Linked DNA regions of Homo sapiens: region 2 is linked to region 1. Evidence: fine-mapped expression QTL. A gene starts in region 1. The other region holds a variant in brackets. All regions are shown on one strand. Distances are between the middles of the regions.

The links. PIP is the estimated chance that this variant, and not a neighbour inherited with it, causes the effect. A credible set is the group of variants that fine-mapping cannot tell apart.
Region 2: its variant is the best candidate, but not a certain one, in a credible set for the expression of ENSA in whole blood (TOPMed, PIP 0.61).

The regions. Positions count from the first base shown.
Region 1 is chr1:150,627,234-150,631,626 of GRCh38, reverse strand. ENSA (endosulfine alpha) reads left to right here and starts at 2,015. Exons shown (of 4, transcript NM_004436.4): 1 at 2,015-2,213; 2 at 4,035-4,160. The coding sequence starts at 2,157. LOC112268239 (a long non-coding RNA gene) reads right to left here and starts at 1,808. Exons shown (of 2, transcript XR_007066603.1): 1 at 1,125-1,808. RefSeq lists enhancers at 351-1,320, 1,321-2,288, 2,031-2,300.
Region 2 is chr1:150,668,488-150,672,880 of GRCh38, reverse strand. All of the region lies in intron 2 of GOLPH3L (golgi phosphoprotein 3 like), which reads left to right. Among named protein-coding and RNA genes, the nearest start is that of GOLPH3L, 26 kb to the left of the region's middle. The variant T/C (reference allele first, on the strand shown) is at 2,359.

The DNA.
Region 1 (4,393 bases):
GTGGCGCACACCTGTAGTCGGGAGGCTGAGGCAGGAGAATCACTTTAACCCGCGAGGCAGAGGTTGTAGGGAACTGAGATTGTGCTACTGCACTACAGCCTGGGTGACAGAGCGAGACTCCGTCTCAAAAAAAAAAAAAAAAAAAAAAAAAAGTCCATGTTTTCAAAACTGAATGCCTTATTTTCTCTCTGCTTTTCAGCTCCATTCCCAAATTGACTCCTCTTCTTGAATTTATTGTTTCTATAAATAATCACCTTGAGGCACACAGTCTTCTCATTCTCTATTCAGTCAGCTGCTAGTCTAGTGGATTCCATTGTCACAGACTCTCTTGGTTAGGTTCACTATTTTCTATTCTTAACTACTACGTTTCTAGGTTAAATCCTAATTATCTCCCACCTAACGTTTGCAGAGGACTCGGCTAGACTGTTCATCTCTGGTAGTTTTCTGCTTGGAATTCTGAGTCTTTTTATTCATTACCACCAAATTATCTCCATAAAGAGCACTTCTTATCTGCCACTCTTTTTTTTTTTTTTTTTTTGAGACGGACTCTCACTGTCACCCAGGCTGGAGTTCAGTGGCGAGATGCGATCTCGGTTCACTGCAACCTCCGCCTCCCAGGTAAAAGCGATTCTCCTGCCTCAGGCTCCTGAGTAGCTGGGACTACAGGTGCACGCCACCACGCCTGGCTAATTTTTGTATTTTTAGTAGAGACGGGGTTTCTCCATGTTGACCAGGATGGTTTCTATCGCCTGACATCATGATCCACCCTCATCGGCCTCCCAAGGTGCTGGGATTACATGCGTGGGCCACCGTGCCCAGCCTTGTTTTGTATTTCTAGTAGAGACAGGGTTTCACCATGTTGGCCAGGCTGGTTTCGAACTCCTGACCTCAAGTGATTCGCCCGCCTACGCCTCCCAGAGTGCTGGCATTACAGGCGTGAGTCACCGCGCCCAGCCAGGCCTGTAAGCTTTCTAAGGGCAGAGACTGCCTTACTATACACGTACCCCCCCCAACTAACACAGTACCATCCACATACAGACAGACGCCCAGGAAATGTTAAACTGTAATTCTGGATAGGTTAACTAGTATTAACCGTATTTACCAAATGTTTACCACATACTTACACTGTCCTCCTTGTTTCAAGGAGCGTAGTCCCCAAGGGATCACCCTGATGGAATATAAAAACTACACATAAGAGTGAAACTACGGAACGTAAGCCATTAGTGTTTTGCAAGACAGCTCGGGTTGAGACTCAGTCTCTCTCTTCCACAGGCCAAGTGACACATCGTAATACCATTGGTACCGTTTTATTTTATTTTTCGCGACAAAGTCTCGTCCTGTCACCCAGGCTGGAGTGCAGTGGCGCGATTTCGGCTCACTGCAACCTCCGCCTGCAGGGTTCAAGCGATTCTCCTGCCTCAGCCTCCCAAGTAATTGGGATTACAAACGCCCGCCACCACGCCCGGCTAATATTTGTATTTTTAGTAGAGACGGGGTTTCACCATGTTGGTCAGGCTGGTCTCGAACTCCTAACCTCAGGTGATCCGCCCACCTCGGCCTCCCAAAGTGCTAGGATTACAGGCGTGAGGCACCGCGCCCGGCCTGTTAGTACTACTTTAAAATCGAATCTGACCTCCAAATCATTTTCTGGAGCTCGATCATTTTCTGCTAACACCGCAAAGCTTAATCCTCTCCACCTGAGAATAAAAGGTTCCATCCTTCCGCTCTCCAGTTTGACGCCCTGCTAAGTCTCTCGGACGCGGTGGGCTGGAGTGAAGGAAGCCGGAGCCCACCAAAGCTGCAAAAGTACCACAGCCAGCAGCCCCGCCCCCGATATCCCCCACAGGCTTCCAATTGGTCCTTGTGGCTCACTCTCTTTCCAGGTTGGTGTTCCAGCTTGCCGGTCGCCTCTATAGAGCCCACCTTTAGACGGCGACTATTGGTAGATCGTTACGTCATTGCCCTATCTACCTCACTCCCACTGGCTCTCATAGGAAGGGGCGGTCGCAACGTCACGGGCAAGGGCCGCCATTTTGACTGAGCAACCCTAGTGACAGGAGCCGAAGCAGCAGCGCAGGTTGTCCCCGTTTCCCCTCCCCCTTCCCTTCTCCGGTTGCCTTCCCGGGCCCCTTACACTCCACAGTCCCGGTCCCGCCATGTCCCAGAAACAAGAAGAAGAGAACCCTGCGGAGGAGACCGGCGAGGAGAAGCAGGTGAAGTGGAAGGGGTGCGGGCGGGCGAGCTGGGGAGACCGTGATGGGGCGGGAGACGGTCTCCCACCAGTGCGGATTGGTCGCCATGGTCTCAGGCTCCGCAGGGGTTGGCCACTTTTTGCGTCACGCTGGGTGAGCTTCAACACGACATGCTGCTTTGGCGCTGGTTAGTTGGGTCGTTTGTCACTCAGTACTGTACTCTTCCTGATTGGCCAATAGGCCTACCGCTCAAACCTTGGACGCTGTGCTATAATTGGCCGAGCATGGACGTGGGGCGGGTGGTTGGAAAGACGGTGAATGGAAAGGGGATGGCTGGTGGTCTTGGGTGTGATGTGTGTTATTGGTTTGTAGAGGTAAGTGACCCAGCAACCGGGCTGGGGCCCGCAGCCTCAATCCGCAAAGATAGGGGTCGAGGTAAAGACGTTTAAAAAAAAACCAGTATTGGGGGAGGGGAGAAGTGTAGTTATTATAATGGCTAGTTTAAGGCGGCAACTTTCTCAAGAGACCTATTTTAGTAGCTAAGGATGGTCTATTGCTCACCTTCAGTGAGGACCCAGCAATATTGAAGAGGGCTAGAGTTCCAAACAGAATCATGGTAATTAAACTTGGAAAAGACGCCGACAGGGTCGTGAGAAAGACACTTCTCTCTTCCCCTAGACTTCCAAGGCAGGGACTTAGTGCACCTGCGATTCCGTGATGGAAACACTAACGCCAAATAAACCCCTTATTGGGGTTTGTATTTGACTTTTAAAATTTAGTACTGGGTTCAGGTACTCATTAAATACACTTGGTGTTATATCTATGCGTAATTTCCAAGAGAAAGGAATATAATTCCACTAAAAAGAGTCATACGTTGACTTCATATCTTTTCAAAAAGTCACTAAAGGGCAGCAGGGACCACAAAAAAAAAAAAAAGAGATTGACTACAGTAGTGAGAGTCCCTGCACCACCAGGGTAGGTATTGATTTTTTTGATGAAAACTGGTGGGTAAATACTAGTGAGCCTACTGTATCTTTGTTTTCCTGAGGTTAAAAACAGTATCATTTTCCTCTCTGTTTATCAGCTTGCTACCATAATATTTGTGGAAATGTTGAAGCAAGGCTGTGCCATTACTCAGGTGGAGATCTTTGGAGAAGGCCACATAGCTAGCCGCCTCCACAGGGAGACCTAACAGGTGGCTTAGACCTTGAATAAAGAAGGAACTGCTTTGTCGTGTAGCAATTTTAAAAAAGAAAGAAAAAAATAAGGAGGAAACATTTAGCAAACTATTTTTTGTTGTTGTAGAGACGGGGTTTCAACATATTGCCCAGGCGGGTAGTGAATTCATGAGCTCAAGTGATGCACCTGCCTCAGCCTCCCAAAGTGCTGGGATTACAGGCATGAGTCACTGCTCCCAGCCCCAAACTATTTTTTTTTTAATTTCTCATGTGACATGTAGGATAGCCTAGGGAACCCTGCTACTCATCCTCTATCACCAGAAGCCCTGCTTTTTTCTCTTTGTCTTTCTTAGCATTTGTGCTGAGTGATATGGCCCACTCTGTGATTAAAGTATTGTGTTTAGTATTACCTTTAGCCCAATACGCACAGGTCCCTGGCTGGTTCCTTGGGTGAAGTGTGAGAAGCAGCTTGTCTTTTTCTCTCACAATAGTCATCTTGAGCTTTAGGGATTTTAACAAAGGTCTAGCTTTAACAGCAGAGTAGAGATAGCGTATTTACAAGTGGGTGGATTTCCAGGAGAAGTTGATAGTATAGTTGTTATCAGATGTGAGAAGCTGTTGTTTCTCAGTCTTTAATTTTATTTGGCTCATTTGTTTTCTCCAGGACACGCAGGAGAAAGAAGGTATTCTGCCTGAGAGAGCTGAAGAGGCAAAGCTAAAGGCCAAATACCCAAGCCTAGGACAAAAGCCTGGAGGCTCCGACTTCCTCATGAAGAGACTCCAGAAAGGGGTATGGGGCATAGTCTCTTACCCTCTTTCTTTGGAGCTAAAGGAGGTTCTTCGAATGAAGTCTGTAGAGGTTCTACTGGATCCTTTTCTGGAGGTTTTGTTGTTGAACAGAAGTAGAGGCGAATTTGAAATTTGAAAAGAGCAAGTCAAATTAATGTAAATCCCTGATGTGGTATCAATTCCCTCCTGATTTCCCATGTAGGAAATTAAGGCCTAAATTGGAGCATTTGGGTG
Region 2 (4,393 bases), 41 kb before region 1:
TGTCCATTTGCCTATATTTATAATCCCTTCCTCACGATCAGGCTGAAATTATCTGTTAAACCAGAACAGCATCAGGTCACAGTTCTTCATTCTCCAATAGGATTAAACAGAGTGGGCTTTTAATGCTTGATCTATTTTATAAAATCTCTTGGCCAGGTGCAGTGGCTCACACCTGTAATCCCAGCACTTTGGGAGGCTGAGGTGGGTGGATCACCTGAGGTCAGGAGTTCGAGACCAGCCTGGCCAACATGATGAAGTCCCGTCTCTACTAAAAATACAAAAATTAACTGAATGTGGTGGCAGGCCCCTGTAATCCCAGCTACTCGGGAGGCTGAGGCAGGAGAATCGCTTGAACCTGGGAGGCAGAGGTTGCAGTGAGCCATGATTGTGCCACTGCACTCCAGCCTGGGCGATAGATTGAGACTCCGTCTCAAATACATACATACATACATAAAATGTCTTTATGAGCTGTGTGGATGTAGAAATAGGAATTGGAGTTTCGATGAATCACATTAATTTGTAAAAGAGGAATTTACATCAAATCCTGAATACCACTCTTTTAATAGAGTGATTCAAGGACAAACAGTACACTAAATTTTCTTAGAGTAATTTTTTAGGAGGAAAAAAATAATAAAATTAGTTTTGCTTGTAGAATTTTTGATAACCCCTGAAGATCATTATACTTTCCTTGGGCTTTGGAATTGGGCAGATATAAAAGGGTTCAAAGCAACATGATAACATTTCTTCTCTCATGGAAGGTGAAGCAATTTTAATGTTAAATCTTCAGACTTGGGGAGATGGAGGGGTTCTTTTTTTCTGAAAATTTTCCTTTAAAAAGTGATATTTTCTCACTGTAGATAATTTGGAAAGGTTAAAAAGCCATGTTTTAATGTAGACATTATTTTATATCATTGTAATAATCCTGGATACTCAATTATATATCTGGCTATTTTTCATTCAACTTTATCACAAGTATTTTCTAATGTTATTTTAAAAACTCCTTATGAGCATATTTTTTAATGATGCTTTAAGTTGTTTTGTTTTCTTTCCTCTTTTTTTTTTTTTTTTTTTTTTGAGACGGAGTTTTGCTCTCGTTGTCCAGGTTGGAGTGCAGTGGTGCGATCTCGGCTCACTGCAACCTCCGCCTCCCAGGTTCAAGCGATTCTCCTTGTCTCAGCCTCCCGAATAGCTGGGATTACAGGCATGCGGCACCACACCCGGCTAATTTTGTATTTTTAGTAGAGACAGTGTTTCACCATGTTGGCCAGGCTGGTCTCAAACTCTGACCTTAGGTGATCCGCCCGCCTTGGCCTCCCAAAGTGCTGGGATTACAGGCGTGAGCCACCGCGCCCGGCCCTTCTTTCCTCTTTTTTTGCCAAGCAGGCAACTTTTAAGATCTTTAACCTTCAGAGTTGTTTTAAGGTGTGTCTTCAAGGAAGTTTGAATAAGGAAGGGCACTTTGAATACTTGACTAAGTGGAAATTCAGCATAAAGTGTTGACTGTCTGAATTTATTGAATTCCCATTGTGCAATCTTTAAAGTTTAAATATGTGTAATATTTGACCCAGAATTTTCTTCTAGATATTCAACAGAAATACACACACAAATGAATACGTCTTTACTTTTTTTTTTTTTTCTTGAGATGGAGTCTTACTCTGCCGCCCAGGCTGGAGTGCAGTGGCACGAACTCACCTCCCTGCAGCCTCTGCCTCCTGGATTCATAGGATTCTCCTGCCTCACCCTCCTGAGTAGCTGGGATTACAGGCACGGGCCACCATGCCCGGCTAATTTTTTTGTATTTTTAGTGGAGACTGGGTTTCACCATGTTGGCCAGGCTGGTCTCAAACTCCTGACCTCAGGTGATCCACCCACCATGGCCTCCCAAAGTGCTGGGATTACAGGCTTGAGCCACCACACCCAGCCAACATTTTTTAATAATAACAAAATACTGTAAGCAACCTAAATGCACATCAGTAAGGGGCTTGGATAGATAAAATTATAATGCATGTAAAATGCAATACTATGCAGTCATTACAAGGGATGAAGAAGTATATTTACTGATGTGGAATGATACCCAGAATAATGGGTTAATGAAAAAAGTTACCACTCAGTGTAATGCCATTTCTAGAAATAATATTAATAAGTGTAAACATAGAATATGTATATAAAAATCTAGAAAAGTACCCATTAAACTGTTGGTAGTGATCCTCTAGAGGGGATAAGATTCTAGAACACTTTCACTTTCTAAAGTCTACATTTCTTTTTATTTATTTATTTATTTTTTGAGACAGAGTCTTGCTCTGTAGCCCAGGCTGGAGTGCAGTGGCACAATCTCGGCTCACTGCAAGCTCCGCCTCC[T/C]GGGTTCATGCCATTCTCCTGCCTCAGCCTCCCAAGTAGCTGGGACTACAGGCACCCGCCACCACGCCCGGCTAATTTTTTGTATTTTTAGTAGAGACGGGGTTTCACCGTGTTAGCCAGGATGGTCTCGATCTCCTGACCTCATGATCCACTCGCCTCAGCCTCCCAAAGTGCTGGGATTACAGGCGTGAGCCACCACACCCAGCCTAAAGTATACATTTCTATAATGGGATTTTTCTTTCTTTTTTACAATTTTTTTTGAGATGGAGTTTCAATCTTGTCGCCCAGGCTGGAGTGCAGTGGTGAGATCTCAGCTCACTGCAACCTCCACCTCTGGGGTTCAAGCAATTCTTCTGCCTCAGCTTCCTGAGTGGCTGGGATTACAGGCGTCTACCACCACACCTGGCCAATTTTTATATTTTTTAGTAGAAACGGGGTTTCACCATGTTGGCCAGGCTGGTCTTGAACTGCTGACCTCAGGCTATCCACCCACGTCAGCCTCCCAAAATGCTGGGATTACAGTCCTGAGCGACCACGCCGGGCCTGCAGTTTTTTTTTTTGAGACGGAGTTTTGCTCTTGTTGCCCAGGATGGAGTGCAGTGGTGTGATCTCAGCTAACTGCAACCTCCACCTCCCAGGTTCAAGTGATTATCCTGCCTCAGCCTCCTGAGTAGCTGGGATTACAGGCACGTGCCACCACACCCAGCTAATTTTTGTATTTTTAGTAGAGACAGGGTTTCATCATGTTGGCCAGGCTGGTCTCGAACTCCTAACCTCAGGTGATCCACCCGCCTTGACCTCCCAAAGTGCAGGGATTACAGGTGTGAGCCACCGCGCCCGGCCTACAGATGTATATTAAAGTCCACTATCTGAATATCTTATTCTGCAAATTCTCTGAGATTCTCCATTAGCCATGAGACAATGTGCAATTCCATCTGTGTTGGGTAGGTCCTAAAATTTTCTTTAGATAGCCTTTGGTAATGAGATTTAATGATCAAATGGTGAACTTTAGTATGTACGTGCTAGGTCTTCCTGCTCAGACATACCAAAGCATTGGCCATTTAATATAGAATCTTTATTATGAATGGCTGGAGAATTCACTAAGTTAGATAGATACACTAAGAGGAAAATGACCTTTAAATATAAATAATTGTATTTTCCCTTACCTCCAGGCTATTCTGCACCTAAATTTGTTTCAATCTGTTCTAAATATTACTATAGATGACAATATTATAATCTTTATTGGTCATATGTACCCACAGTACAGGGGAACATTTACTATCATGTTCTCTCTTTTCTCAGTTATTTTCTTTTTCTAAATCCAGTCTCTTTCTTGTAGTTATACAGGTGTTTGTTTTATAATTATTTTCTTAAAACTCTACATATATGTTTTTATACTTTTGTCTATTATTGCATATTCTTAATAAAAAAGTTAAAAACTCGTTTGGAAAGTTTTGTATGTTTTGAGATGCTACAATAGGAAAGTGTGACATTCAAAAATGTAGTTTCTTTATCCTGATCTTCATCATTTCTTTATACTGCTTCTCATTTATAGTTTTGTTGACAATCTGATGTCACTGTCACTGAAACAGAAGTTACATGGTCAGGAGGAAATGAGACAACAAAAGAAAACTTTCTTCCAGTTGCTTTAATATTGGCTAAAATGTTTGCACACCTGTTAAGATTTATTACGAGAATAAATAATGCCTACATAATTACGTGTTCTGAAGGAAGTTATAGTTTAACTTTAATTAGGTAGCTAAACTATAAAAAAAAACAAGTGTTAACCTAAAAAAAAAGCCTACCCCTTCCTTAAAGAGGAGTCACAAATATGAGTTGGGGCCAGGCACAGTGGCTCACACCTGTAATTTTAGTACTTCAGGAGGCTGAGGTGGGCATACCACTTGAGCTGAGGAGTTCGAGACCAGCCTGGGCAACATGGCAAAACCCCATCTCTACTAAAAATACAAATATTAGCTGGGTGTGGTGGCACGCGCCTGTAGTCCCAACTACTTGGGAGGCTGAGGTGAGAGGA